Linked DNA regions of Homo sapiens. The protein of the gene in region 3 interacts with the protein of the main gene of each other region in a biochemical or structural test. Each region holds a gene or a part of one and is shown on either strand. Other genes may lie near its edges.

The links.
Region 1: the proteins of FLT4 (region 3) and VEGFD form a complex in vitro, tested with the Homo sapiens proteins (2 studies listed by BioGRID).
Region 2: the proteins of FLT4 (region 3) and LRRK1 form a complex in vitro, tested with the Homo sapiens proteins (2 studies listed by BioGRID and IntAct, with this or other methods).

What each region holds. Positions count from the first base shown.
Region 1 is NC_000023.11:15,358,981-15,369,245, forward strand, and holds part of VEGFD (vascular endothelial growth factor D preproprotein), read right to left. Parts: intron 4,340-10,265; coding exon 4,129-4,339; intron 1-4,128. UniProt on the Homo sapiens protein: Growth factor active in angiogenesis, lymphangiogenesis and endothelial cell growth, stimulating their proliferation and migration and also has effects on the permeability of blood vessels.
Region 2 is NC_000015.10:101,045,092-101,055,356, forward strand, and holds part of LRRK1 (leucine-rich repeat serine/threonine-protein kinase 1), read left to right. Parts: intron 1-889; coding exon 890-1,061; intron 1,062-3,402; coding exon 3,403-3,566; intron 3,567-4,001; exon of another isoform or gene 4,002-4,552; coding exon 4,553-4,692; intron 4,693-5,542; exon of another isoform or gene 5,543-6,619; coding exon 6,620-6,869; exon of another isoform or gene 6,870-7,298; intron 7,299-7,366; exon of another isoform or gene 7,367-7,830; coding exon 7,831-7,997; intron 7,998-8,131; coding exon 8,132-8,329; intron 8,330-9,854; coding exon 9,855-10,132; intron 10,133-10,265.
Region 3 is NC_000005.10:180,623,901-180,634,165, forward strand, and holds part of FLT4 (vascular endothelial growth factor receptor 3 isoform 1 precursor), read right to left. Parts: intron 7,975-10,265; coding exon of another isoform or gene 7,879-7,974; coding exon 7,782-7,878; intron 6,900-7,781; coding exon 6,655-6,899; intron 6,438-6,654; coding exon 6,325-6,437; intron 6,206-6,324; coding exon 6,043-6,205; intron 5,936-6,042; coding exon 5,796-5,935; intron 5,528-5,795; coding exon 5,359-5,527; intron 5,100-5,358; coding exon 4,982-5,099; intron 2,366-4,981; coding exon 2,211-2,365; intron 2,132-2,210; coding exon 1,969-2,131; intron 162-1,968; coding exon 35-161; intron 1-34. UniProt on the Homo sapiens protein: Tyrosine-protein kinase that acts as a cell-surface receptor for VEGFC and VEGFD, and plays an essential role in adult lymphangiogenesis and in the development of the vascular network and the cardiovascular system during embryonic development.

The DNA.
Region 1 (10,265 bases), on a different chromosome or scaffold from region 3:
AAGATTCAATTTTATGATAAAGACAACACAAAGACTTCCTTGTAGCTTGCCATGGAACTGTAGAGTTTATTTATTATGTGTGGGGTTGTGGTGCTGGTGAAAATCTCTTGTGGTAGGCAGCTTTGAAACTAACCCCCAGTGGTCCCCATCTCCTGATAGTCATGCCCTTGTGTAAATGCCTTCCCCTCGTGTGTGAGCTGAACCTAGTAACTTGCTTCTTATGAAGAGAATACAGCAAAAGTGATGGGATACCACTTCCATGATGAAGTTAAAAAAGATTGCAGTCTTGTTTCTACTTATTGCAAGCTCCCTTCTTTCTTACTCTGTCTCACTTTCTCACACACACTCTCTCTCTCTCTCTCCTCCTTCTCCACTTGCAGGCTTTTTTTTTTTTTTTTTTTTTTAGCTTATTTTACTTTAAGTTCTGGGATACATGTGCAGAACGTGCAGGTTTGTTACACAGGTATGCATGTGCCACGGTGGTTTGCTGCACCCGTCAACCCGTCATCTAGGTTTCAAGCCCCGCATGCATTAGGTATTTGTCCTAATGCTCTCCCTCCCTTTGCCCCCCACCCACCAACAGGCCCTGGTTTGTGATGTTCCCCTCCTTGTGTATATGTGTTCTCATTGTTCAACTCCCACTTATGAGTGAGAACATGCGGTGTTTGGTTTTCAGTTCTTGTGTTAGTTTGCCGCCATGTTAGAAAGGTCCACACGACAAGGAACTTGAGGCAGCCTCTGGCCAATAGCCAGCGAGGAACTAAGACCCTCAGTCCAACAGCCTGTGAGGAATTGAGTCCTGCAAACAACAGCTGACTGAACTTGAAAGCACACTCTGCTTCAGCTGTGCCCTAAGATGCCTGCAGCCCAAGCCAACATCTTAACTGCAGCCTCCAGAGACATCTGAAGCAGAAAAACTGATCTAGGCCATGTCAGCATTTCTGGCCCACAGAAACTGAGATAAATATTGTTTTAAGTAGCTAAGTTTTGTGGTAATGTGTTATGCAACAATAGGCAAACTCTCCTTTATTTTTACTGCATTTTCAAGAACTCTCCTGAGATTATCCTGAATTCCCATATAGGGGAATAGAAGGAATAGAGAAAACGTCTGCTTGAAGTATACTGATACAATATTACCATTTGAGATGTGACCCTAGTCCCTAAATTATTCCCTTATAACATCTTCTCCATTCCTTTCTCCTTTTTCATCCCTTAATACCAATTTTTTTCATATGTTGCTTCTTCAATCACTGAAAACATAATATGAGTTGTCTGGAGCACTGCATTATACTACACAGTCTACCTAAACTTTGTTTTTTTTTATTTTTTTCCTCATAATAAAACATTCTATCCTGAGAAACTTTTTTTTTTTTTTTTGAGACGGGGTCTCACTCTGTTGCCAGGCTGGAGTGCAGCGGCGCGATCTCGGCTCACTGCAACCTCCACCTCCTGGGTTCAAGCGATTCTCCTGCCTCAGCCTCCCAAGTAGCTGGGATTACAGGTATGCGCCACCATGCCCAGCTAATTTTTGTATTTTTAGTAGAGACGGAGTTTCACCATGTTGGCCAGGCTGGTCTTGATCTCTTAACCTTGTGATCCGCCCACCTCAGCCTCCCAAAGTGCTGGGATTAAAGGCGTGAGCCACTGTGCCCAGCCCCCAAGAAACCTTTTTAAAAATTTCTGATTATTAATATTTATATAAAAAGCCTGAAGGCTGAACACATGAGAGATAAATTACTCAATTAAGTATTATTATGGTTATTATTTAATTCACTATAATTAATCATGAATCCTTGAAAAAACAAGAAACCAACCTATGAAAATATTCCCAATTTAAAATTCTACTTAAAGGTTGCTTTCCATTTGCTTTTTCTCTTTTTATAAAACTAAGTTTTGAAATTGGAGTGGTAAGCTTTTAATCAAAATCATATGCAATTATGACCAACATCACTGATTAAAGGCTTCATAACTCTACTATTCTTTACTGCTTCCCAGCAGGACTGCTCTGCCTCAGGAAATTACCTTGAAATCCACAAGGGAGAGTTGATAACAAATTCTAATTGGTGTAACATGCTGATTTCATTATTGACTGCTTCTAACTTAGTAAATAACTTCAGATGATCCCCTAGAAATTACGAGATAAATTCATAGGGTTTGCAAATTCCGTGATATTTTAATGGTTTTCTCCTTAGAAAATGTCAATGTCATTGACTTTTTTTAGATCACCTAGTCTTGGTTTTATGGTAACGTTCATGTTCATGAAATAGCTCCAGGTTCACCTCAGGCCTTCAGTCAGGTAATCTGGTTAAGGCCTTTGACCTCTAGATGAGGTGCCAACCCTTTGTTCTCATGAAGGCTATATTAATTCACCACATAGAAACATCTAGAGCTTCAAATTTCTGTCTGAAGTGAGCTCGAGGCTATGGTTCCTACCACATCAACTCACTTAGACACACAGTCATACACATGAACACTAAGAATCCTCTTCACACTCATGCCCAAGGTGCTACCAAAGAATATGTCCCCATCTATGCACAGCTCTCCCCACAGCCAACAACAGAGGTCTGTGCAACCCCAACATCTTTTTACAAATGGGAAAAAACAAATACAATTTTAGGTAGAAAGAAAAAAATAGTTTTGGCCTAGTGGTTAATTTGAATTATGCTATATATATAGTCAGTTACCAGGTAATCATGTTAATCAAATCTAGAATGCTAGATCAGCAATGCTGTAGCAGCTTCTTGTGTTGTTTTGACATGACATCAAAAAATTAAGTGCCTAATCAGAAACCACAGAACTTTACTTGACAAGCATTTTATTCATTATGACAGTACCTACTCACACTGGTTTTCTTTCTTTCTTTCTTTGTTTTTTTGTTTTGTTTTGTTTTGTTTTTTTGTTTTTTAAGATGGAGTTTCACTCTTGTTGCCCAGGTTGGAGTGCAATGGTGCAATCTTGGCTCACTGCAACCTCCGCCTCCTGGGTTCAAGTGATTCTCCTGCCTCAGCCTCCCAAGTAGTTGGGATTACAGGCATGCACCGCCATGCCTGGCTAATTTTGTATTTTTAGTAGAGATGGGTTTTCACCATGTTGGTCAGGCTGGTCTCGAACTCCTGACCTCAGGTGATCCACCTGCCTCAACCTCCCAAAGTGCTGGGATTACAGGTGTCATCCACCACACCTGGCCTGATTTTCTTTTAAAGAATCTTCATACGTTACTAGGGAACGATCATTATCCTTATTTCAAATTATGTTATTTTCTAGTCTGGAGTTTTGATCATTTTGTCTTGAGAATTTTCTCCCTTCATTATTCTCCTAGCAATACCAGTACCCAATATTACAACTCAGTGTCTAACTTTTACTTTTCACTTTTACTAAAAAATCACACAACTTTGCAGAAATAAAAAAAAAAGCTATACCTAATCTATTGGTTCGGGGAGGGGGTGGTTTTTTTGAGACAGGATCTTGCTCTGTTGCCCAGGCTGGAGTGCAGTAGCATGATCATGGCTCACTGCAGCCTCGACCTCCTGGGCTCAGCCGATCCTCCCACCTCAGCCTCCCAAGTAGCTGGGAATACAGGCACGTACCACAATGTTCAGCTATTTTTTTCTATTTTTTTGTAGAGATGGGGTCTCGTCATGTTGCCCAGGCTGGTTTCAAACTCCTGGGCTCAAGCGATCTGCCGTTCTTGGCCTCCCAAAGTGCTGGGATTACAGGCATGAGCCACCATGCCTGGCCATCTTTGGTTTTTGTCTATGTATGTATGGCAGTAGAATACTCCTTGTGGATGAATCCCCAGGTTTTATTTTCTAAGTAAACCTGATGATTGTTTTTCTATTGAGAACAATAGTCTTCCTGGGTTTTCTTTGCCCCCACATCCTTGAGTTAAATTTATTTCTATATTTTGAGATGTTCTTTTGTGTTTTTTATCTCAAAATCATATTGAATATATTTCTCTGTGAAGTAAACATTAAAAAATCAAGATTCTGCACTAATACTGGAAATCAAAGACCGACTTTCATTCTCCCTCTGACACGTGTCTGCCCTACGCAGACTTTTGGAGAAAGTAAGTGTGTTTGTCACTATCTAATAAAGAGAAAGAATTTGTCTCCACATCCACACACCTACCTTTTAGTGTTTCAATGTCATAGAAAGTTGCCGCAAACCTAGTGGACCGATGGGATGCTGAGCGAGAGTCCATACTGGTAAAACTTTTGAGCCTCAGCCTGCATCTCCACAGCTTCCAGTCCTCAGAGTGAGTAATTCGAAGTAGTTCCTCCAAACTAGAAGCAGCCCTGATCTGCTGTTCAGATCGTTCCAATGTGGACTGAGATGATCGCTTAAAAAAACAAAAATACCAGTTTAAAAACAAGTTACTAAATTTTAAATTTGTCATAATAATCTTCATTTCTGACACTTAGAAGTGTAAATACATCTGTAATTAGAGATACTATTGAAACGTATGCCAGTGCCTAGGAAAAAGGATATCTTCTAGTATTTTTGGTTTACATTCTGCTCATTTTTGATTGAATCAGAGGATTTACTTATTCTTCCTGGGTTCTCAGAACACTTACAAAGAAAATTGTAGTGCATTGAATGGTGGGCCTCAAAATGATATGTCCACATCCTAACCCACAGAACCTGTGAACATTACCTTAATTTGGACAAAGGATCTGTACAGATGTAATGAAGTTAAGGATCTTAAAATGAGATCCTCCTGGATTATCTATGTGGACCCTAAATACTGTACAATGACAAGTGTCCTTATAAGAGACAGAAGAGAAGACAGGGACACAGAGGAAGGTCATTTGAAGATGGGGGCAGAGACCGGAGTGATGCAGTGACAAGCGGGGGATTGCCTAGAGCCATCAGAAGCTGGATGAAGCAAGAAAAGATTCTCTCCAAGAGTGTTTTGAGGGCGTGCAGCCTTGCTGACCCTTCCATTTTGGAATTCTGGACTCTGGAGCTGTGAGAAAATACATTTCTGTTATTTTAAGCCACCAAGTTTGTGATAATTAGTTATGGCAGCCATAGGAAACGAAAAGATGTTTATCATATTATTTTTGTGACAGTAGCTACTGACAGTTGTTTTCATCTCTGTTATTTGTTTGAGAAATTGATCCACAAAGGCCTGGGTAACCTGACTACAGTCACAAAAAAAAGATATCAAGCCCCTGATAACCTGAATTTTCTTACTTCTAACTCTCTTTGTTTTCTTTTAAAACCTACTATTTCAAAAACATGATTTTTTTCTGACAAAATACTTTTCTGGGGTTTTACGCTCTAGAAGTATAAGAGTTTAATATTCTTATGGAGCTATCAAATACTCTTCTAGAGTTTGCTTTCCATACAGTTGCATGAACTGTATTGGCGGATACAGTGCAACTGTATTGGATGGGTTTGTAAGAAAAAAAAGACTTGGTAGATAAAAGATTTTCAGTATGTAGCCTCTTGTTCAAAATTGGGGGCTTAGTTATATAAATAATGATATATGCATACAATGAATTCTATGTGATCATCAAAACAAAGGATGTAGAGGTATATTGGGACAGAACGAATTGAGATCCTTCCTGGAATGTGCTGGAGAAATGATAAGGTGATCTATCTATGGCTAGGGCCTCCGATTTTCTCTTGCTGACCCGGTAGTTACTAGATGTTTGTTTTGCTGGGTGGTTGGAATATGCAGGCTGAGGCCATTTGTAGAGCTGGGATGAGGGAGGAGGCAAAGGACCAGTGCTGAGAGAGGAGGGTGGAAGGGAAAGGTGAATGTCAGCTGCCTGCTGCAGGGCGAGGAACAGTGAAGGAAAACAAAGATGAGCAAAAGGGGCTGTTAAAAGGCTTTGCATTGGGTAGTGTGATGTACACTCTCCTCCACTGAGCCTCAAAAGCTGTAGTTAAAATCTACATCATGCATTAGCATTTTAGGAGGAGAAATTTTTTTTAGACATGCTAGTGGACACTGAGAGTTGTCCAAAAATGGGTACTCAGAAGAGCAAGTGTGGTCTAAGTCATGTGTGATTCAGCTATGATATAACCTCTTTTAAAATTACTTATGTATTTTTACTTATGCACTTATGTACATCATATATACATACTTATATGGATATATGAGGAACATCTGGAGACATATACATGAAAATGTAAACAAAGGTTATTCTTTATTTATTTTCGAGACCGAGTCTGGCTCTGTCATCCAGGCTGGAGTGCAGTGGCACCATCTCCGCTCACTGCAACCTCAGCCTCCCAGGTTCAAGCGATTCTCCTGCCTCAGCCTCCTAAGTAGCTGGGACTACAGGAGCCTGCCACCATGCCCGGCTAATTTTTGTACTTTTAGTAGAGATGGGGTTTCGCCATGTTGCGCAGGCTGGTCTTGAACTCCTGGGCTCAAGTGATCTGCTCGCCTTGGCCGCCCAAAGTGTTGTGATTACAGACATGAGCCGCTGCGCCTGGCCAACAATGGTTATTCTTTAGATCAAGAGCTGTCAAACTATGACCTCCCAGCCTAATTTAGCCTGCTGCCTGCCTGTTTTTGTAAATCAAGTTGTATTGACACACAGCCATGTCCATTCATTTACTTATTGTCTACGGCTGCTTTCATACTACAAAAGCAGAGTTGAGAATTTGAGACAGAGACCTTCATGGCAGTTTCAATCTGAGGCCACTTGTCTTTTTTATTCTCAATTCTTTAATATTCTCAGCCATTATCATTTTCATTATTCCACCTATAATATTGCCTCTACTCTCTTTTTTGAAAAATGTTGGAGGCTTTTAATCATCTTACATGTCTCTTAAATGTGCTTTTATATTTAGCTATTTTTTCCTCTTCACCTCTCTCTAATGTGTTATGGGTAAATTAATTGGTTCATCTTTCCAATCACCAACTCTCCAATTGTTGTGAGTCTAGAGTTTACTTTGTTAAGGTTTTAATTTCAATCACCGTATTTCTAATTTCAAGCATTTCTACTTCATTCTTCTTCCTATCTACTTTCTGTTACATTTCTGTATATTCTTCCTAGTTTGTTTGTTTGTTTGTTTGTTTGTTTTGAGACCCAGTCTCATTCTGTTGCCCAGGCTAGAGTGCAGTGGCGCGATCTCGGCTCACTGCAAGCTCCACCTCCCGGGTTCACGCCATTCTCCCTCCTCAGCCTCCTGAGTAGCTGGGACTACAGGCGCCCACCACCACGCCCGGCTAATTTTGTTTTTGTATTTTTATTAGAGACAGGGTTTCACCGTGTTAGCCAGGATGGTCTCGATCTCCTGACTTTGTGATCCACCCACCTCGGCCTCCCACAGTGCTGGGATTACAGGCGTGAGCCACTGCGCCCTGCCCCTAGTTTGTCATTTCAATTTTATGAATATTATTTCTTTATCTCTTTGAGGGTTGCAAATATTTTTAAGTATTTCTTCAAATTATTTTAGATTTTAACTTTATAGGTATGACATATACTGATTATTCATTTTGTTGCTGTCATTCTTAGTAATAATTATATTAACGTGATTTGGAATTTTGGTTAGTAGTTCCATTTTCATTCAGAGATTCATTTTTCTTTCTCATTATTCTTTCTCCAACATTTAGAAGTTTTATGGTTGTACCCCATAATACCCTGGGTCCTGAATCCGAATCTTGTTGAGTATTTATGATTCAGGGATCAGCTCAGCTCACGTCCTAGTTGCAAGGAAGTATCTGCTTCCTCCTTTGCCCCGTTAAGTAATTTCATAGAAGTCACAGCTCCAGGCAGCAATGAGCAGTAACTCTTCCTTCCTCTTTCATGGATCTGATGTAGTGCACTAAAAGAGCCGATTTCCAACTGAAGCTAAATTTTTGATGGCCCCTGTCTTCTAGCCCAGATCCATAAGTCCTGCAGCTTCAGCTTCATGGCTTTAGTGCCATTTCTGTAAATGATTGTCATCTGCAGATGTTTGCCATCATTCAATCAATTTTATATTCTGTGGACTAAGAACGATCTGAAAATATGAATCTACAAGGTTATCGCACTTGGGAATCCAGATGTGAGTGTGTGTCTGTGGGTGCATGTTTTTAATAAAAGCGGGAGAATTATAAGCTGGGGGAAAGAGGCAACAGACAGGAAGAAAGAAAAAGCATATGCAGGAGAGCTAAGGCAGGACCTAGAGGGGTTGTTTTGACATAAGTGCCAGAGATAAGTGGATGTAGTGTGACTAGATGAGAGGATCACTGTCAGAAACAAGAGGAAAATACAGAATGACATGGGTTTGTAGATGGCAAGACTGCCTGGGAAGCTCAGTGAGCTCATACCTGTGATTTCTCACTTTTCGATAAAGTTTGAATCAAGGCAAAATTGTGGGAGTGAGAGGAGTGGGGAGCATGAGGATCATAGATCGGGTTTGTGAAATTGGCTTGCCACAGCTTCTTCATCTAAGAAATCTGGAGATGAAACTGAACAATTGCTAATGTCTCTGGCAGCTTTGAAATTCAATGCTTCTCCATTAAGTCTTATTTGTCAATAGTCTCTCTTTTCCTGATTATTCATTCTCTTCTAGTTGGACAGTACTCCATATACAATTCAGTCTTCAAAATAAAACTTTGTGACAATGCTGCTTCCACGTGAAAATAATGAAACCAAGCAGCTTTTTAAAGATTTTAGAGTTGAAGCATATTGAAAGGATTTTTATGTATTGAGGCAAATTTCACTCAATATTATCCAAAAATACAAGGCCAGGCATGGTGGCTTACACTTGTAATCCCAGCACTTTGGGAAGCCGAGGTGGGAGGATTGCCTGAGCCCAAGAGTTCAAGATCAGACTGGAAACATGGTGAGACCCTGTCTCTACTAAAAATACAAAAATTAGCCAGACATGCTGGTGCATGCCTGTACTCCCAGCTACTCAGGAGACTGAGGTGGGAGAATCACCTGAGCCTGGGGAGGTCAAGGTTGCAGTGAGCCATGATCTCGCCACTTGCACTCCAGCCTGGGCAATGGAGCACGATCTTGAAAAAGAAAGAAAGAAAGAAAGAAAGAAAAAGAAAAAGAAAGAAAGAAAGAAAGAAAGAAAGAAAGAAAGAAAGAAAGGAAAGAAGAAAGAAAGAAAGAAGAAAGAAAGGAAAGAAAGAAAGAAAGAAAGAAAAGAAAGAAAGAAAGAAAAGAAGGAAAGAAAGAAAGGAGAGAAAGAGAAAGAAAGAAAGGAGAGAAAGAGAAAGAAAGAAAGAAAAGAAAGGAGAGAAAGAGAAAGAAAGAAAACAGGCAGATGTATGGTTTTATTATAGTTCTTACAGGATTCAATTCAATCTTAGAAATATTTTTAAACTATCCAACTGTGAGAACTCAGGAGAAAATATCAAATCTCTGGATTGAATTAAAGTAATTAAATGGCTCATACAACTTGCCTCATCATAAAAAATGCAGTGTTTACTCAAGTACTCAGAGTTATTTAAGCTTACTTTCAACCCCAGAATTTAAAACCTAGTTTGAAATAACAGAAATTGCAGACAGTCATTTTGCTATTTTAAGTGGAAGTACTAACAATTAAACTTAAGTAGAAACCTGACAAGTAATTCATCAAGGGCATACATTTTCAAAGGGTTCAAGAATGGTTGTTTGTTCCCAATCGGCTTTCTGCACTGGTTGATTTTTGTATAATGAACTTTATGTTATCCACTTGGGTAAGACAAAAATAACAATTAAAAATGTGTTTATCCCAAATACATACTTAAACCATTGATTTCAGTGGTTTTAATTACTAAACCTTTGCCAAGTAAATTGCTCCTAATTTCTTCCTATTTTCTGATGGAAGTGCTAATCAAAATCAAAATAATTAAAAGGTTTTCATCAAGAGGAAGAAAGTGAATGAAGCAGGGTTACCAGATCTCTGCTTTTTATTACAGCGGCAGCTTTTTTATGGTAATTAATTCAAGACTACTAGCAATTTCACTCTTAAATAACAAATCATTCTCTAATTTCTTGGCTACCACAAGCCAGCTTCTAAATTGGGAGGCTTAAAGTCTTTTTAATAAGACTTCACCATCATTTGAATGTATGCTCCTTTCTGTGGTACAATTTCAAGGGTAGTCATTTCCCCTTTTGCTAATTTCTAAGTTCACACAGCATTCTCCCCTGAGGAAGCATGAGCATCTCCATAGCTTCCTAAGTATTAATTTAGGTCACGGGTGACCAAGATGGCAGGCAAGATATTTGGAAAGGTATAGTGGTGGGGTTTGTAGGAGAAACTTGGAAGTGTCCCACGTTGTGAGGAAGTCAACGGCCTTCTGTACTCCTACCAATTTCATC
Region 2 (10,265 bases), on a different chromosome or scaffold from region 3:
AGCGTGTAAGTGAGAGCCGAGACTTGCGCCTGTATGCTCGGGCCATGGGCTGTCACTGAATTTTCTTACAGTTTAGGGAGTCTTTTCCAGAAAGTTCTAAGGACATTTATTGGACTGAAATAGATTTAAGATTAGGAGAGCTGAAGGTAAAACCTTTATTGGGAAGGAGTGCAGCATCTGCACACCAGGGGCCGTCCTGTACCTGTCCAGTGCCTGCCCCCGCAGCCCCACAGGATGCAGCCGTTGCTGGTTTTCGGGCACCCTTTTGGAGGGACCTCCCAGGTTTCAGCCGTGAAGCCCTTGCCGATGCAATGATGCAGCATTTTTATGATGACCGAGAGTGTTCTCGTAAAACATCCCTCTTCCGCACAAAACAGGCCTATTCTAACTTTTAAGGCAATCGCGTCGTGTCAACGGGCCAAGAATAATAAATAGCTTTAAAGGCCAAAAATGTTACTCTGACCCTAATATCTGCATTGTCCTTGAAACCTTGCAGCTGTGTTTGTTTTTCCTTCATCAACCAAAGTTAATGTTATTTCCCCAACTGCAACCCCGTTTATAGAGAATTGAGTCCCATTTGCTGTGTCTGACATTTTTAGGACCATGATGTTTTCATGTCTTCCCTTAGCCTTATTCTAGTATCTTAGAAACCATGATAGACTCATATTAATGGGACCAGTCTTCATTTTCCTTTGGAGTATTTATTCTTAGCATATAAACCACGCTTCTCTTACTAATAACAGAATTCCAAAGGCCCTGGGAGGAAGGAACCCAGCAGCCTGAGGTGTTCCAGCACAGCCTGTCCCCAGATCAGGCCATCTGCTGGGGTCAGGGCCCTGCAGTGGAGCTTGGGCCCCACTGTTCACCAGTCCCCCTTGGTGTGTTTCAGCTACCTCCTGCCCCATCTCCTTCCATCTAAACCTGGCCTGGACACCCACGGTATGCGGCACCCCACAGCCAACACCATTCAGAGGGTATTTAAGATGAGCTTCGTTCCCGTTGGCTTCTGGCAAAGGTTTATAGCACGGATGCTGATCAGCCTGGCGGAGATGGACCTGCAGGTATTATGGCTGCGGTTTCTGCATAGACAGATGCCCGAGAGCCACCTACAGTTGTACCACTGGGGGAGGGGAATGCCCTTTGCTGGGGGGCCCTGCCTGGAGACCCTTCTCCTAGAGCCATGCCACCAATGTAGTGCCAGGGGGCAGGTGTGGCATGGGCTGCTGGCCAACCCACTGAAGCCATCCTGGGAGTTCCAAAGCAGCACCCTCCTTAGACAGAACACGCCCTTTATAAACAGTGGTTCTCAGTGTTAGCCCACCTCAAAACCACCTGGAGTTTGTTAGAACACAGTTTGGTGGCCCCACCCGAGGTTCTGATTCAGTAGGTGTGGACTGAGGCCAAGAATTCACATTTCTATCCATTCCCCGAGGTGATGCCGCCGGCCCAGCAACCACACTTGGAGAACCGTGAAGTTAGAAGCACGGTTTTGCCGTCCTGGCTGCACGCTAGACTCGCCTGGAGGAAATTCTAAAAGACACAGACCACACTCCAGACCGATTGAATCAGGGTCTTTGAGTGTGGCATCATTTGAAAAAGTGATTCCTCTTTGGTATTTTTAAGGCTCCCAGGCGAGTCCCCTGTGCAGTCCAGTTTGAGAACCACTTGTGCAGAACTGTACGTTGGTTCTGGTAACACGGGAGACCCCCCGCCCAAGGAGTTAGCTTCTGTGGGTTTACCTGGGGTTACAGGAAGGCGTCCCCGCTGTCAGACAACATTAATTTCATGCAGGGCAGGAACATGGAAGCAACATTTGCTACAGTGGTGTTTTTCAAAGTGGGGTTCCTATACCAGCAAAATCAGCCTCACCTGGGAACGTGTGAGGAACACACGTTCTCAGGCCCCACCTCAAACCCACTGCATGAGAAACTCCAGGGGGAACCCCGCACTGGTTTTCACAACCCTCCAGGGGATTCTGACACACTTTTGGTTTTGCGAACCTCTGGCATAATCCCTGACTGTCAAATCCTTGACATTAAACTCCGTATGAGTTTACTGTTGCTACATCCTAATTAGAAAGCCCTTATTGAATTATAACTTCTTAGCTCTATAAAAATGTTCTTTGATCTTCCCATTTTTACCGAAATGGTAAGAAAAAAATCAATGCAAAAGCCTTAAAGTCCATCGTGACAGTAGCAGCCTGTGCTAGCGGGGAGGGAGATGGGTTAATAGCGCCAGAAGGGTGCACTGATTGAAGGAGTGGGCGCAGGCGCTGGTGCTCCTACGTTCCCATTCCTCTGCCCTCCCTTTGAACTCTGTGTGCCGCTGTCTTCTCAAGGGAGGGTCATGGAGCACTAGCATCGTGGGAGGCTGAGCTGACAAGTGGGGCCCAGCTGGGCCTGGAGGCCAGGGCGCCCTTCCGGGCAGCAGCTTCCCTCACTCGAAGTTAGGAAAGAAGTCCTATTGAAATTCAGATGGGTGACAGGAGGGGGAAAAGAGTGCAGTCTCATCACTCATCAAAGGCATGCAAATTCAAGCAGCAGTGAGATGCCAGTTTTCATCCATCACATTAGCAAAAAGCTGAGCCGTAATCCCCAGCCCGGGGCACGGAGCGGCCCCGCGCACACTGGTAGTCAGCGCACAGGACAGTCTCGTCGTTCGAGAAGCGATTCCTCGGGATACATCCAGAGCTTTAAAACGATCAGACCCTTCGACCAATAATCCGACTGGTAAACATCTAAACTGAGGACATCATTTTCAATCAGAGAAAGCTCTGTGCCTTTCTCATGTAACTCAAGGTGGTTTTGAGGGAGCAAAAGATTGGCACCAACTTACACTTCCAGAAGAGAGTGGTTCAGGAAATTACTATGCTTAATAGAATATTAAACTTTAGAAAAATGAATTTTATGTGTGTTTTTAATGGCATAGGAAAGGTGGGGTTTTTTAACATATACGAAATTAGAAATCCAATATGGCTTCAGCTGTTTTTCACAAACATATGGAGATAGAAAAAAAAAAAATCCTGGAATAATATATACCAAAATCTGAATGATCTCTCTGCTTGGTGTTAAATTGGTGTTTTGTTTTCCCTCTTACATTTTTCTGTATTTTCTACATTTTCTAATATGAATTTTTGCTTGTAAAGTCAGAAAGGGAAAAAAATTTTAAAGGAAAGCCTATTTTTCAATTCTTTGGAAAAACTGTGTTTCCGGAATTCCCTGGAGACCCCGTCAGCTAATGTAACGTTCAATTTGGCAGCAGGGATGAGCAGCGTGGGAGGAGAGGGTGGGAAAGATGGGGGACATTTATCAAGATGGGGCCCAGCCCGGCCTCTGCAGAGCTCTGCCCAGGGCCAGCGAGGAGCCCAGAATACTTAAGCAGGGTCTTTTCTCTGTCTTTCAGCTTTTTGAAAACAAGAAGAATACTAAAAGCAGGAACAGGAAAGTCACCATTTACAGTTTTACAGGAAACCAGAGAAATCGCTGTAGCACATTCAGAGTGAAAAGAAATCAGACCATCTATTGGCAGGAAGGGCTCCTGGTCACTTTTGATGGGGGCTACCTCAGGTAGGAACACCTGGAAGCCCACCTGCCAGGTCAGCAGGTGCCACAGCAGCCACCGCGGGGCCACGTCAGCAGGATGCCTCATCCTCTTGGTGTCCAGAATTTTGCTCGTGAGAGCGGCTCGTCATGGCAGCTTGCTAGAAATGTGAGGCCCTCCCACGAGTGTCCCAGAGGCTCCGGTCTCCTCACCCCTGCTGAGCCCCCCTTGCAGGACGGGAAAGGCAAAGGCAGATGTGGCGGCCACAGCTGAGGACTTGAGGGACGTGGCGGCCATTGAGCTCAGGAGAGCCTCAGGCACTTCCCATGGTTATTCAGGTCACCATGGTGACCTTGCAGCCATCCTGCCCGTCCCCTTGTTCTGTGAGAAGCCAGGCTGGGGACAGGGGATGCTGAGACTCCTCAGCCCCCATCTCCACTGCCCATAACCAGACACGGAACTCAGCTCCCTGTGCCATTTATTCTTGGTTTTTTGAGAGCGGTAGACCTAAAGTCAGCCCAACAGGTTTAACGAATGATAAACACCCAAGATTATTTTAATGTTTACAATGAACTTTGCAAAATATTCTTCAGCTCTGTGAGAGGAGAAGAAGGGAAAAGGGGAGGTAACTTTACAGAGGGCTTGATTGGCACCTGCCTCTTCCGCATAGATGTTCTCACTTAAGGCCCAGGGTTGCTGCTGGACAGATGAGCATACTGAGGTTCAGGGAGGTCTGGGAACTTCCTTAGGGCCTCACCTGAGGGTCAGCTCCCAGGCTGAGCGTCCCTGACTGCAATCTTCCTCGTGCCTCCTTCACCAGGCCAGGTCCGGGGCAAGAACAAGGCAGGGCCACGCACACGTACATACAGGGAGGAGTCCCCCATCGGTCCTGCAGGGCACAGAGTCTCTCCAGGTCCCCGGGGGTTGGTTCCTGTCCCTGGGGGTAGGGATATCATCCCAGGGTCCCCCAGAGCCAGATCGCAATGGGCTCCTTTTGGTCTCTGGATTGCAGTGTGGAATCTTCCGACGTGAACTGGAAAAAGAAGAAAAGCGGAGGAATGAAAATTGTTTGCCAATCAGAAGTGAGGGACTTCTCAGCCATGGCTTTCATCACGGACCACGTCAATTCCTTGATTGATCAGTGGTTTCCCGGTAAGAGGAGATGCTAGAAGCAAGCCCTCATTCATGCTAATATTTCTTATGAATCAGGGTGGGGCTGCTGCTTTCGGGGTGGACAAAAATCCCACTGGGATTCAGCCCAAGAAAACTAGGGGGTCTTAACAGCACTTTGGTGGGAGTCCTGGCCCCCGAGAAGTCCAGCTCTGTCACTGGGGGGAGTCCCACGGGGAGGACTGGGCTCGGACACCACTGGGAATGTGCAGGGAAGCGGCCTGCCAGCTGCCCACAGGCGTGGCAAGAAAGATGACACTGGTACCACGAGTGGTCCACGGAGATGCTCAGTGTGAGCTCACACGTGTCTTGTTTTCATAGTGAGGACTGTGTGGCTGAAATTGCAGGGGAGCCGGCAGATGGAAATTTATCCCCTGCGCAGGGGCAGGGATGGAGGGGAGCCGTGGCAGCCAAGGGGCCTTGCTCTCCTCCCCTGCCACCCCACCCATCCCGGCGGTGATCAAACCACTAACACCGCCCTTCTCAGACCCTTTGGATCTGTTTCTTCATTGATAGTTCACCCAAAAAAAGTACTCTTTGAGTGAAGTTCCTGAGGCCTCCTGTTTGTTTTGCTCCTGGGGTGGAGACGACTCCCAGAGCAGCCTGCCAGGGGGAGGCCATCTGGGGTTTAATGGGGCAAGCAGCTGTGGGAGGGGCTGCCCTGAGAGCTTCAGCCCTGAACGCTGGAGGCCAAGCAGCTGTGGGACAGGCTGCCCGAGAGCCTCAGCCCCTGAACGCTGGAGGCCAAGCAGCTGTGGGAGAGCGGGTTTGGAATTCCAGTGCCACCCCTGCAAGCCTCGGCTGGTCCCCCGGCCTCCTGGGCCGGCCTCACCTGCATGCAATGCCTGCATCCCAGACAGCATCAGGGAAGGTGGCTAAGAGGCAGTGGCAGAATGCACTCAGGATACACATTCCAGATCCCAGGGTCTGGTCTCTGTCAGGGTTGGGGTCCTTCACACTGTTGGCAGGAAGGGTGACCTACAAGGAAAAAAGGCTTAGAAAGGAGCCCTCGGAGAAGTCAGCTGGGTGTGCGTGTCATGGTGATTTGGGAGGCACTTGGCTGTCTAAGGGGGCCCTTAGGCCCATGTGAACCCTTCTGGGCACTTTGCAGCTCCCCACCAGCCAGTGTTCCCCACACAGCAGGTGCTGGGCAGTTTGACAGGTGGGTCCCTTAGACAGTCACCTGAGATGGAAAGGGCTCTGGTGAGCACCTGAGACAGATCGCCTGGAGCCAGCATCCCCAGCCAGGGGCCCCTCCCAACGGGATGCCTTACACATGGACCTGCAGATATCAGATGTGCCTGGAAAGTTCTAGGCATCCACCTCCTACCTTGCATGAAGCAGGCAGTTGGCCGGCCCTGAGGGCACCTCCACAGGGCATCTTGGAGGGTGTTTCTCTGCACCTCCTCTCAGAGGCGTGGGGGAATCCCGTGTCCGGTGACTGAGTTTCGTCTATGATAATTTGCACTCATTTCTGCCCCTGCATTGCCCTTCATGGACATTGTAAACCTGATGTTTCTAATTGTAAGAAGGGTGCCTTCCCCACTGCCGTGATGGTTGGAGGATAGCTCACACCTAGTCTGCGATGACCTGTTAGGGCCCAGTCATGCAGGAGGGATCCCCCCACTCCTCTCAGGCCCCCCAGCCAGCCTGCTCAGTGTCCCGACCACTGGACAGTTCTCGGAAGCATCCTGAACCCTCCCTGGACACATCTTTCAGGACAAACAATTGCGCTCTCCAAAAAGGCACCCGAATGTGGCAGTGGGTTTCAGCCTGTCTCTTGGGTACAGGCCAGGACAGGCAGCTCCCCTGCTGCGAAGGCCTCAGGGCCTGGGGTGCAGAGTGCTGCTCGGGGGGCCCTCCTGCACCACCTTCTTGTGAAGCTGTCTCCTGCTCTGTCCTTATTTAGCCCTGACAGCCACAGAGAGCGACGGGACGCCACTCATGGAGCAGTACGTGCCCTGCCCGGTCTGCGAGACAGCCTGGGCCCAGCACACGGACCCCAGTGAGAAATCAGAGGATGTGCAGTACTTCGACATGGAAGACTGTGTCCTGACGGCCATCGAGCGGGACTTCATCTCCTGCCCCAGACACCCGGACCTCCCCGTGCCGCTGCAGGAGCTGGTCCCTGAACTGTTCATGACCGACTTCCCGGCCAGGTATGCCCCGAAGGCCCCTCCCAGAACACAGTGCAGGTCACAGGGGGCGTTCCTCGCTGTGCAGTTGCCGAGTGATCTCCAGGAAGACCCCTCTGGGGCGGGCAGGTGCCCCGGCCATGGCTTCCCACCAATCTCAGTACCTTTTAGGTTCCCATCCTCGGCTGCCTGAAAGGAACCAGGCTGCCGGCTTTCCATTTTGGAGGCCTTGATAGGCCCAACTGGGAAGAGTGCTTTGCAAGTGCAGCCATCCTGCCTCCCCATACGGCTCCCCCTTCCCCTCGTAGCCAGAGCTGCTCTCTCCTGAGCTGCCTCTCCTTTCCACTCCTACCTCCCCACCAGCTCTAGGGCCAGCAGATAAGTGCAGCCAGTGCTCCTCAAGCATTCAGGAAGGGGAGAGAAGGGAGAGCTCCCACCCAGAGCCTTGTTTACCTTCTTTGTCAAACGCTGACTCCTGTCTGTAGCCCTAGCGCTGAGCTCCCACCCAGAGCCTCGTTTACCTTCTTTGTCAAACGCTGACTCCTGTCTGTAGCCCTAGCGCTGAGCCTTGGACCCCTCAAATCTGTTCTTAGAGTTTATTGTACCTATGCTAACCCAAGATCATAACTAGAGAGAGAATCGGGGAGGAAATAGGAAACGTCACCTTTCAGAAGAAAACTTCCAAAGGGGTCCTTTCTCTACGGCCACCACTTCTGTGGGGTTCACCCTGTGCCAGCCATCACCACCTCTGAGGCCGTTCCTGTCCTGAGAGCCCTCTGTACAGAGGAGACTGAGGCTTAGCAAGCCTGCATAACCTACCCAGGTGTGCTCACCCACAAGTGGCAGGGCCGGGGTGGCCCAGATCTGTCCAGCCTCACAGATGGCTTTGAACCATGACTCTCGGCCGTTGGGGCAAATGACCCAGCCCAGGACCCACCCGCATCAGGGCGGGGGGGATGTGGCTGATGCCGGGCGTGTGTGGCAGGCTCTTCCTGGAGAACAGCAAGCTGGAGCACAGCGAGGACGAGGGCAGCGTCCTGGGCCAGGGCGGCAGTGGCACCGTCATCTACCGGGCCCGGTACCAGGGCCAGCCTGTGGCCGTCAAGCGCTTCCACATCAAAAAATTCAAGAACTTTGCTAACGTACCGGCAGGTAAGCGGGTCCCAGGTTGGTGCTGTTTTTCTCAGACATATGCTGCCCGGGTCTAAGCTCTGTGCGGCCTTAGAGAGGCCTGAGGCTGCAGGCACCCCATGTCCTACTGGCTGACACTGCGCTGTCCCTGGCAGACACCATGCTGAGGCACCTGCGGGCCACCGATGCCATGAAGAACTTCTCCGAGTTCCGGCAGGAGGCCAGCATGCTGCACGCGCTGCAGCACCCCTGCATCGTGGCGCTCATCGGCATCAGCATCCACCCGCTCTGCTTCGCCCTGGAGCTCGCGCCGCTCAGCAGCCTCAACACCGTGCTGTCCGAGAACGCCAGAGGTACCGCGGCGCGCCGCCCCACCCGGCCCCGGAGACCGACAGAGCCCCGGGCGCCTCCTGCCTGGCACGGGGGGTAGAGCCTCAGGTGGCCTTGGCAAGCCCAGGGCACGCCCAACCCATGGCTCGTGTGACCATCCCCTGGCTGCGAGGCCAGGCTCCCCGCCAGGTCCAGTCACTAGGCAGAGCCTTGGCGAGGACGGGGGAGCGCACACTCTGGAGTCGGCTAAGACCAGGCTCTGCCGCGGTCCGGAAAGCCGCTGAGTTTATTTGCCTGTAAAAGGAGGATGGTAACAGGCCTCGCTGGGAGGGCACCGAGCACGGGAGCTGCATTGAATCACTTTCCCAACTGCACACGTACACGGCTGCTGAGACTCTGAGACCGCAGGGTCAGTGGGACCATATTTTAACATAAAATGTCGAAGTAATTTACCTTGAGAAAAGAGCAGCTAAACTCCAGAGTGGCCAGAGGGTGAAAGGTAGCTGTCTTTTGACTAAGGAAGAAGAAATGCTATGAAAATCAATCACTTCTGCCTCAATGGAAGATAATTTTTTAAACAGAATTCTTTACTTTTTTTTAATACAGGATCTCACTTTGTTGGCCAGGCTGGAGGACAGTGGTGCAATCTCAGCTCACTGCAGCTTTGACCTCCTGAACTCAAGCCATCCTCCCACCGCAACTTCCCGAGTAGCTACAAGCACACGCCACCACACCCAGCTAATTTGTTGTTGTTGTTTGTAGAGATGGCCTTTCACCCTGTTGCCCAGGTCGTTCTCGAACTGTGAGCTCAGTCGATCCCCCCACTTTAGCCTCCCAAAGTGCTGGAATCACCGGCATGAGCCACACGCCCAGCCAAACAAAATGCTTCTACTTGCCTCTCACCCCTTTACGTAGGACAGCCTTGACCTGAGGTGAACTCTAGAGATTTCGAACCCTTGCTCATTCAGCAAAATGCCAGCAATTCCAGGAATAAGATATCAGGAATGAAGCTACAGCGATGAGCATTTCTATCCTAAATACTGTTTCACTTAACCAGGCCATTCTCTGTCCTTTATGGCAGTCTGGTGAATAGTGAGAATGTGTCAATGGAATATAAAGTATCTAAGGGCCAGGCGCAGTGGCTCACATGTGTAATCCCAACACTTTGGGAGGCCCAGGCGGGCAGGTCGCTTAAAGCCAGGAATTCAAGACCAGCCTGGCCAACATGGTGAAACCCCATGTCTACTAAAAATACGAAAATTAGCCAGGCATGGTGGCACGCGCCTATAGTCCTAGCTACTCAACTTGGGAGGCTGAGGCAGGAGAACTGCTTGAACCCTGGAGGCAGAGGTTGCAGTGAGCCAAGACCATGCCACTGCACTCCAGCCTGGGTGATAGAGGGAGACTCTGTCTCAATAAAAGAAAAAAGAAAAAAAATCATAAAGTATCTAGGGAGATCGGAAGACAAAAAGACAGTTGTTATCATGATAATTTGATTCTATCAAAACTGAAATTTTGATACATTTGAAAATTGTTTTTCTTTGCAAGATTCTTCCTTTATACCCCTGGGACACATGCTCACCCAAAAAATAGCCTACCAGATCGCCTCGGGCCTGGCCTACCTGCACAAGAAAAACATCATCTTCTGTGACCTGAAGTCGGACAACATTCTGGTGTGGTCCCTTGACGTCAAGGAGCACATCAACATCAAGCTATCTGACTACGGGATTTCGAGGCAGTCATTCCATGAGGGCGCCCTAGGCGTGGAGGGCACTCCTGGCTACCAGGCCCCAGAGATCAGGCCTCGCATTGTATATGATGAGAAGGTACGTGCCTGGATCCCCTGGCCCAGCCCCACAGTGTAGGAGCCCAGCCCTCAGGCTAGCCGGGCAGTCCTGGAGGCACCTGAAGCTTCGGGGCTCAGCATCCCCAAAAGCACATTTTTCTCACTCTCCCTTG
Region 3 (10,265 bases):
TCCCTGGGCACTCAGCAGCGCGGCTGGCCTGTACCTTATTCTTTCCCTCCACAAACTCGGTCCAGGTGTCCAGGCTCTCGATGGGGTTCACGGCATCCTGCGTGGTCACCGCCCTCCAGTCACGGCACTGTGGCATGAGGTCTTGCTGCTGCCGCCGCCGGCTGCCAGGACCAGAAGAGGCAAGGGCAGGTCAGGGATACAGGCAGGAAGGGCCCACATGGGGGGCGGGGTCAAGCCCTTGTCATATCCAGTCACCTTCTCATATGGGGTCGTGGGCGAGGCTGGCCCTCGGGCCTGGGTGAGGGAGATGGGAAGGGGACTTTGGTGTTTTTTTTTTTTTTTTGAGACGGAGTTTCACTCTTGTTGCCCAGGCTGGACTGCAATGGCACAATCTCAGCTCACCGAAACCTCCGCCTCCTGGGTTCAAGCGATTCTCCTGCCTCAGCCTCCCAAGTAGCTGGGATTATAGGCATGTGCCACCACGCCTGGCTATTTTTTTTGTATTTTCAGTAGAGTCGGGGTTTCTCCATGTTGGTCAGCTGGTCTCGAACTCCTGACCTCAGGTGATTGGTCTGCCTTGGCCTCCCAAAGCGCTGGGATTACAGGCGTGAGCCACCGAGCCCGGCCTGTTTCTGGAGCTCTGTCTCCCACCCTTCAGGCTCAGGACCCGGCAACCCATCCTACACAGGCTGCCAACACCAGCTTCCTGTGCCCACTGTCCCTCAGGCACATGTGCACTCTGTCCCGCTTCTCTGTGCCCCTTCCTGCAGAGGCCACCTGGGATCTGCCCACATGGCTGCAGGCCCAGCACAGTCCCATGCTGCCCCCGGAGGCATCTCTGCCCAGCCTCTCCCTCTCTCCTGCTTTAGGAGCTGCGGCCTCCCTCTGGGCAGGGTGTGCATCCCCAGCAAGCTTGGCCTCCTGCCAGGATTGGGGGGGTAGTCTCAGGGCCCCAAGGGAGGCTCATATCTGCCCCTGTGGAGGAGCCGAGCAGGGACCCCCCGAAGGGCTCCATCACTTGGCACAGAGCATACAGGTGGCACACCCAGAAGGAAGGACATTTGGAGGTGCTGGCAGTGAGCTGCATGCCGCACGATCTAGAAGAATACCTATGAACCTTGGACATCTGGGGCCGGCTCATGCCACCCCTACTGAGCCTCCCCCACTGACCACACCAGAGCCACAGCCAGTGGGGCTACCCTCATCTCCCATGTAGGTTCCCAGCTCCCATCCCGCCCCAGTTTGATACTAGGAATCTCTTGCTAAAAGGCAAACCTGAGCCATGTCTCCACTTCTCAACACCCTTCACTGGCTCCCTAGTGCCTTCAAGCCCTGCCCACCTGGGCGTCCTCCTCTCACCCCCTGCTTGTCTAAATGTCCTGCTGGCATCCCGCTCAGTGGAGGGGAGCACGGCTCAGCAGGTGGCTGGGTCCTGTTGCTTACAGCTGTGCCCCTGGGAAAGCCGCCTCCCTTCTCTGACCCTATTTCCCTGTCTCTAAGGGGATGTGAGTGGTGCACAGATGAGCTGAGGCCCATGAGCACACATGGTGTGCCGTGGGGCTCAGTGCAACCATCCCAGGGGCTCAGGTGACACCCCCCCAGGTCCCCACCCCGCTGGAGGTGTCCTGCTGGGTGCTCAGAGACATGTGCTTCCTTCTCCCTCCAGATGATGCAATTACGTGTCCAGAGGTCTTCGCTCTTGAGGGAGGTGGGCAGGGGCCAGACCCATCCTGTGTCCAGCTTGGCCAGCTGATGGAGGATGGGTGCAAGGGAGGCTCTGAGCCTCACTCAGGCGAGGTGAGGCCAGGGATTGGCTATAGCTGAAGGTAGGGTTCAAGTTCAGAGCAGGGCCCTGAGAAGGGGTACAGGGAAGACCTGGGCAGTGAGGGGTGCTGTAAAGGAGGTTCCTCATGGCTGAGGCTGGGGGCTGTGGCTGTGCAGGGGACCTGAGGCTGGAGCTGTACTCACAGACTACGCTGGGCAAACATCTTGCAGGGTGTCCAGGGCCGCCAGTGCCACTGGATGCTGAGAGGCAGGGGCACCCCGTAGGCCGTGCAGGTGAGGGCCTGGCGGCTGTGACGCGAGTAGATGCTGGGGGAGGAGGCCTCCTTCTCATGTATCTGGGGGGGCACTGTGGGCACACAGATGGCCGGTCAGCTGGCCTCCAATGCCAGGCCGCCCACCCGTGCGCTCTCCCGTCCCTGACCTACCATTCACCACCAGCTCCAGGCTGATGTTGCGCCTCAGGCCAGCAGCGGAGTTCCACAGGGCGAGGGTGTAGGTGCCTGTGCTGGCCTCTGTCACCTCCTTGAGCACCAGGGCATGTGGACTGTGGCGCCCGGACAGTGCCTTTCCATCCTTGTACCTGGCCAGGGAAGGGAGGTCAGGGCCCATACAGATCCCACCACAGCCCCAACCTCATGCTGGCACCCCCACCCCAAATACAGTTGGGAGGAGGGAGGGGCTGGCAGGAGTGCAGGGTAGGACGGGGAACACTGGTCTGCGAGGGGATGGTCTAAGTCCCTGGAGATGGTCTCCAGGCCGTATCTGCCAGGTGTGACAACCGTGTCAGGCGGCCGGCTCGGGCATTGGTCACTGAGGTCTGCAGTAGCACCTCCTGCCTTGCCCCAAAGCCTCTGAACTCTCCACAAGTAGTGAGATGACCATGTCACTGCTGGGGCAGCCGCCTTCTCTCCCTGCCTGTGGCTGCAGACAGCCTTCTTCAGCCAGGCTTGCCCAGCCCAGCCCAGGAGGGTCCCACACACCTGGTTCCTCCACCCAGCTGGGCACGGCCTGGAGACCCCGTCCTCTTTCTTAGACACCTGAAGGAGTGGAGGTGCAGTCCCTGCGAGCACAGTCTAGCTCCTTGACATGTGCGTGGCCCCTGCAGACATGTGGGCTTCTTGCTGCCCACACCCCGCCCCCAGGCCTGGCTCTCACTGCCTGCCTCGCTGGGACACTCATTTCTGTAGCCAGGAATCTGCAGGGTTCCCTGCCTCCTTCATTTGGGTGGGGGCGTGCAGCCTTCCTGACTGTCCTATGCTGTGGCCTGCCCCTGCCTTGCTGTGTCTGTTTGCCCATCGTCCCCCTGGGCTGGGAGCCCCACGAGGGCAGTGCTGCCTCCTGCAGAGTTGCGCCCAGATGCCTACATGTCTGCTGCACACGTGAGGAAGCAGATGCCTCAGCCCCAGAGGGTGTGCTGGGGCCCCTGCAGGCACCTGTCTCTGTGGCCTGGACTCTGTATGGAGATGCTCCTCCTTTGGACAGGTGCCTGCCCCTGGTGCTGGGTGTGGCAGGCCAGAGATACACCACTGTGTCCTGGGAGAGGCACAGCCCTCGGGCAGAGACCAACAGAGAAGGGGAGGCAGGGGCCCATTCTCAACTTGGACATCACAGCAGGGGCCCGGGGGGAGTGCCTGGCCTGGGGTCGCAGAGTGAGGCAGGGCAGGGCAGGGGCGGAACTGAGGTGGTGCTGTCTGCATGGCTCTGGTCCTGAGTCTGCCACTTGCTGGATCTGAGACTCCTTCATTGCCTCAATGGAGATGACATGCACCTTGCAGCTGTCGTGAGGTTTAACCCGGACAGTGACAGCAGCGTGCTGGACACACTGCGGGTGCTTCGGAAGCCAAGGACCAGCCCATCTGTGTGTTTGCTAGACCGTCCACCCAGTCAGTGCTCGCCATCGTCATGTGCTGGTGCCATAGGAAGGGTGGGCACCACAGGAAGGGTGGGTGGCTGCCATAGGAAGAGAGCCAGATGTGGCAGGAGTGAGCCAGTGGAAAGCTGTTCTGAGAGGCAGCTGCCTGAGGACTGGGTAGACCCTGGACGCAACAGAGCTGCCACCTGCCCAGAGCAGGCTCAGTAATGGTGGCCTTGGAGGGCAGGGGACAGGGCCCAGGGGTCTCCAGGAGCTGTACCCGTGAGTGAGGCTCCAGGATCTGCCAGTGCCCTCAGGACTCTGCCCCAAGGGCCTTGGCACTGACCAGGTGCCTTGGATGGACACCGAAGTCTGTGTCCTCAGTGGGAGGGTCACACTGGGCTCAGGGCCAGGACACCCTGGGCCTTCCATCCCAGGAGAGACGAGCCCCCAGCCAGTGCAAGGGGCCCTGGCTGAGGAAACCCTGGGCCTCTGCTTGCCCAGCTCCAGGAAAAGTTGCCCTGCCAGGAGGGAGGTGCCCAGGCTGAAGAGAAGGAGGCTCTTGGGCTAGCTCAGTGCAGAGACCCCTCCTGGGGAATTGGCGATCAGTTAGGAATACCCTTTCCTAGCCTCTGCTTCCTCGTCTATGCAATGGGGACTCAAAGTGTGACTGACTGTGGGTGAGCCATGTGGATGACTCAGACGGCCTGAGGACGTGTTTGTGAGGGGTGCCATGCCCCCCCAGAGCCTGCAGGGAGTAGCCAGCGGAGACAGGGCCACCCCTGAGGCCTCCCTTCTCTGGGCCGCAGCACACGCTTGCAGATCGGGGATCTGCGGGGACTCCAGCAGCTTGTCGGCCTCCTGGAAGCTCTCTCGCTCGCTGCCGTGCAGCACAGGCCCAGCCCAGGCAATCTGTCAATTCCCTGTGGCATCTCCAAATTTCTGGACAGAAGGGTCCTGGGAGAGGCAGCCTCGCAAAAGGAGGCATAGGGAACGCTAAGCCATTGCTGCAGGGCAGGCCCTGGAGATTCTGCAGGGCAGAGAGGGGCCCAGCGGTCAGGAGGCAGTTAGGAAAAGCCCCTCGCTGTGCCCACCACACCCACATGTAACAGAAGGCTGGTACTGAAACCTTTCACAGTGTGGCAGGAACAGACAGACCTTCCATCTGAAATATCACATTATGGGCGGGTTCCTTGGGGGGTCTCCTGAGAGAGGCCCCCGCCATGCCTGGTCTCCGTGTGCAGGTCCTGACGGGGAGGACGCTGCCCGTCTTCCCCTATGGTCTGTTTTGCCCCTGGACTTGGAAGGGTATCGGCGGGGTCGGTGGGGAGCCAGGGCTGTTACCACTGGAACTCGGGCGGGGGGTACGCTGCCAGCTTCACGGGCAGCTTCACCAGCTCGTCTCCTGCCGTGGCCTCCAGGATGGGTCCTTTGAGCCACTCGACGCTGATGAAGGGATTTTCTGCCGGACAGGAGAAGTCACTGTAAATCCAGGACTGACCCGTCGTGGACTGACCAGGGACTCCCCCCACGGCCCCTGCAGCCCCGGCAGCCGGACATCCGCAGACTGGGGCTGGCCATGCCGCCCGGTGCAGGAGCTGGGCAGCTCCTCTGCTCGTGGCCCTCCCTTCCCTCTGGCTGGACTCCTGAGTGCTCAAGGGCACCGTGAGCTCTGGGCCCAGGCCCACAGGGCACAAGGACCCTGGTTTCCCAGGCCATACCATGCACAATGACCTCGGTGCTCTCCCGAAATCGCTGGATGCCGTTGTTGGCCTTGCACACATACGAGCCCAGGTCGTGCTGGCTGACGTTGTGGATGGTCAGGATGCTGGAGAGTTCTGTGTGGGTCTGCTGGGAGCGTCGCTCGGGCACCCACTTACCCCGCTCTGCCTGCCCGCACCCAGGGAAGCCCCGCGTCAGCAGGCGGGCTCCTGCACAGCTACCCCACCGAAGGCACACCTCCCAGCCCAGCCAGCGGTGGCTCCGGAAGCCCTGGACCCAGGCCCTGAGTTTTCTTTGGGTGGAACACTTGCCACTCAGACCGGGGCCCCTGGGGCAGGCCTGGGCCCACACATCCTCCACGCGGAGGCCCAGTGTGTGCTGTACAGTCACAGGGACTCCTGGGGACAGGACAGCCTGGCAGCGCTGCTGACCTCACCTGCTTCCCTGGGTAGTCCCAGTCAAAGGTGACACCTGAGTTAAACTCAGCCCACACGGTGCAGTTCAGGACCAGCTTCTCCCCTACCAGCAGCTCCAGCGACTTCCTGGGCAACAGCTGGATGTCATAGAGCTCGTTGCCTGTTGACACGCACACAGTGACTCCCACGCCCTCACAGGACGACACCCACTGAGGCCAGTGAGGCAGTGACAGCCCCGTTACTGGGAACGGGGCACAGCCCTGTTACCTGTGATGTGCACCAGGAAGGGGTTGGAAAGGAAGTCCTGGTCTCCCCAGGTGGTCTCGCACTGCAGGTACAGGGCATCGTGCAGCAGTGGCGTGGACACGAGCATGCCCCGCCGGTCATCCCACACCACCTCCTGCCCGTCTGGCCACAGCACCGAGCTTTGCTGGAGGGACAAGGCCACCATCATTGCCCAGCTGCCCCTTGCTCCTGGCCAGACAGGCGGCCGCCTTTCCCAGGGGTGGGATGGGAGGGTCGGATGCTGGGGTTGGGGTGGGGCCGTACCGAGCGCAGCGTGACATTGAGGCCGGGGATGGACACCAGACAGGGCACCCACATGGCGTCCTTCCTGTTGACCAAGAGCGTGTCAGGCTTGTTGATGAATGGCTGCTCAAAGTCTATGGAGAGGGAGCAAGCTGTTGGGGAAGGGACGTGGCGGCCAGGCTGGGGGAGGGCTCCACGGGGCTGGGTGGTGCTGGTCCTGAACCAGCCACCCGCTGGAGCAGGTAGGGCCCCGTTCTCTCCTCCTGCCAGCCCAGGGTCCACAGGCTGGGGGCGGTGTGGGCCCCAGCTGCCCGGGACCCTGCTCCAGCCTGGCCCGCCTCCAAGTCTCACCTCTCACGAACACGTAGGAGCTGGCGGCCGTGGTGCCCTCGATGCGTGCCTTGATGTACTTGTAGTAGCAGACGTAGCTGCCTGTGTCGTTGGCATGTACCTCGTGCAGCAGCAACACCTTGCAGTAGGGCCTGGCGTCTGTGCCCTCGCAGTCTCGCACCACCCCCGTGTCCTCGCTGTCCTTGTCTCCGGTGGCTGGCGCCTCCTGAGCTCCTGGCCAAGCCCACTCGAGGGGGTGCTGTCCCCTGGCAGAGGACAGGAGTGGTCAGGTGGGCCCCAGGGCAGCCCATGGGGACTGTCCCTGAGAAGCCTCCCTCAGGCCGAGCCTCACCAGGTTTGTCTTACCCAGAGCATGGAACTGCCCAGGGTTTGGGCGCACACTACAGACCGTGCCCAGGGCAGGGCACTCCCCGACCCCCGGGCCTCTACCAGGCTCCCGGGGCTGGCCTGTGGCCAAGCACAGGCCTTGGATCACAGCTGGGAAGGTGGGGAGGTACCCATCTCTGGGGCCCCAGTGGGTGCTCCCAGGGTGGCTGGGAGTGGATGCAGATGACCTGGGAGGTGGCCTGGGGTCAGTGTGAGGTGTCAGGAGTGGGGTGCAGGGTGATGAGGCCCCATATGAAATGCTGATGGGGTGGGCTGGGCACAGTGGCTCACGCCTGTAATCCCAGCACTTTGGGAGGCTGAGGTGGGTGGGTTACGAGGTCAGGAGATCAAGACCATCCTGCTTAACACGGTGAAACCCCGTCTCTACTACAAATACAAAAAATTAGCCGGGCGTGGTGGCGGGCACCTGTAGTCCCAGCTACTTGGGAGGCTGAGGCAGGAGAATGGCGTGAACCCGGGAGGCAGAGCTTGCAGTGAGCCGAGATCGCACCACTGCACTCCAGCCTGGGTGACAGAGTGAGACTCCATCTCAGAAAAAAAAAAAGAAATGCTGATGGGGGTGTGTGGTTGAGGCTGGGGAGGACCGAAGTCACCCACAGCCTGGGAGACCACACGGCCCCGAGGCCACTCTGCCCTGACTCTGCCCTGGGAGGGGGCTGCCATCTGGGCCCACAGCCACCACCTCCTGCCTTGGGCTTGTGCAGCCTCTCTGGCCTGCCAGTGGGAGAGGGACCCAGTACCTGCAGGAGATGGACAGGCTGTCACCGGTGTCGATGACGTGTGACTCCTCCGTGATGTTCAAGGTCGGGGGGGTCATGGAGTAGCCACTCACCAGGCCTGGGGTGGGAGACAGGGTCAGCGTGGTGCTGGGCTGTGACTTGGCACGACGTTGATGGGGCATGGCTGGGCATTCTGCATCGCAAGCGCAGACCCCTGCAGGGCCGGAGCAGCTCAGGTTCTCAGCCAGCACCGCGTGGCCTGGCCTCACCATGTGCGCCGTGAGCAGCACCAGCTCCCAGGCGCCAAGACAGCCACGAACCTCTCCCACAGGCGCACCCTGCCTTGCCCCACAGCCCCCATCCTCAGCTACACACCGGCCCTGGACCTAACCCCAACCTCTGACCCCGGTGAGCTGAGCGGCTGGCATGAAGGAGCGGGGGAGGGGCGCTGGAGTGTGTCACCTCCACATCACGGCCCCTGCAGTGCTGCTGCCTGAGGCCCTCCCTCCTGAACTGCAGCCCTACACCCGCTGCTTCCCAGAGGGTCCGCACATCCCAGGTCCTCCCCGAACCACGCAGGCCTCGCCCCCTCCTGCCTGCTCTCTGCCAGGGGCCTCGCCCCCTCCTGCCTGCTCTCTGCCAGGGGCCTCGCCCCTTCCCAGGCCACGTGGTGTCACCTCACAGGTGTCCTTTCGCTCCTCAGCTTCTCGCACCCTCACAGACCCTGCTGGCTGCCCCAGCCTCCTCCGGGCTCTCCCTGCCCAGGCCTCCCTAGACACCCCCAGGTCTTCTCACAGGGCTCTTCCTCAGACATACAAATAAACCCGCCTCATCTGGCTGAAACCCACCATCAGCCAGAGACTGTAGGCTGGCCGGGCTGGGCCTTCTGTCCTGCAGGACTCAGCCCTGCTGCCCCCACACCCTCCTCCCCGTGAGGTGGTGTGTGTGTGTGTGTGTGTGTGTGTGTGTGTGTGTGCACACGCGTGCCTCCATGTGCATCTGTAACTGTAGGCCTGGGTGTGTGAGTCTGTGTGTGCCTATGTCTGAGTGGTGTGTGTGGCTTCCTGCGTATGTGCAAACATGCATGCATGTTTGTGTATCTCGGACATGCTGGCGTGTGTTCACACATGAGTGTGTATGTGGTGGGATCCCGGTGTGGGTGGGAGCAGGCCCCAGGGGAGGTCTGGGTCTGGAACTCTGGCAGATGCATCCTGCCGGGGCCATCCTGAGACAACAGGAAGGGAGGGCTGCATGGCCAGAGGCCCAGGGCTGCGTCCTGTCCCTCCCCCAGGTCCCTGTCCTCCTGGGGGCACAGCCCACTCTTCTGCCCCCAGGCCCCTCCCGTCCAACACGTCCCTTGGGGTTTGAGGCAGCAGTAGTCTAGCTCCCTGAGGCCCCAGGGTCCCGCCCTGAAGCTAACGGGGGTGGGGTGGAGCCCAGGGAATCCTTGACCCCAAGCCACCCTGGGACGCAGCACCAGGACGGCACCTGCTGCACACCAAGATCTCATTTCGGCCTCACACGGGCAATGTGGTCACCGGTCAATGATCTCTGGCCTCTCCCTTCTTCTATCCCTCTCTCCTGGCCAAACCCTTCCAGGCACCACTTCACTACGGGTCCAGAGCAGGAAGGGCCTTAAACCACACATCCAGACCCACTGTACAGACTGGGACACTGAGGCCCTCCAGCCACCCTCAGAAGGCAGCGCCTCGCCTGTCTGCTGCTGTGACTACCACCGAGTCTTTGCTTTGCCAGCCCTCCCTTGGGGCCCCGAGGTGGAAGGGGGTTGTGGGCTCTGCAGCCCCTTCCCCTTGGGGGTGCCAAGCCCTCACATGCACCACAGCGGGGCCTGGGCACTGGCAGCCCGTAGCTTGCACCCCTGGGGCTGCCATGAGAGGAGTCTGGGCCAGGGGCTGGGGGATCCCTGCAGTGAGGTGGCTCCCCTCAGGTGGTGAGGGGCTAAGAAGGAATCCCTCTGAGCTGGGCTTTGAAGGAGGGGGATTTTTTTTCCAGGTAGTGGAAAGTAAGTCCATGCCAGGAAGACAGCTGGGCATGTATGTGGGCACCGGAGTGGGTGGTGGTCTGTCCTCAGAGCTACAGAGGAGGGATGATGAGCATGGGGCTAGACCCGTCCGGATGAATAGACTCTACCTTCCCAGTGGACCTAGCGGGAGGTCAGGAGACCAGGCTCGAGGCCAGTGTCCACCTGCCCAGCCCCATGACTGCAGGAGAGAGAACATCCCGCCACCCCTACTGAGGTCTGGAGTGTTGAGCTGGTGGCCCCCTTCTCAGGAGTGCACATCCAGCAGACACCTTCCAGCTCCACCGTGCGGCAGCTGTCAGCCCAGCTTCCTCTGATGGCTCCCCTCTGTTCCCAAGATAAAGCAAGGTGGGCTGGGCCTCTGCCCTCCAGCCACTGCCTCTCTCCAGCTTCCTCTCCTAGGAGGCATGGACCTCCTCCTCCCATCCTCCCAAAGTGCCTGTTGTTTTCCTGTCTTGAACACT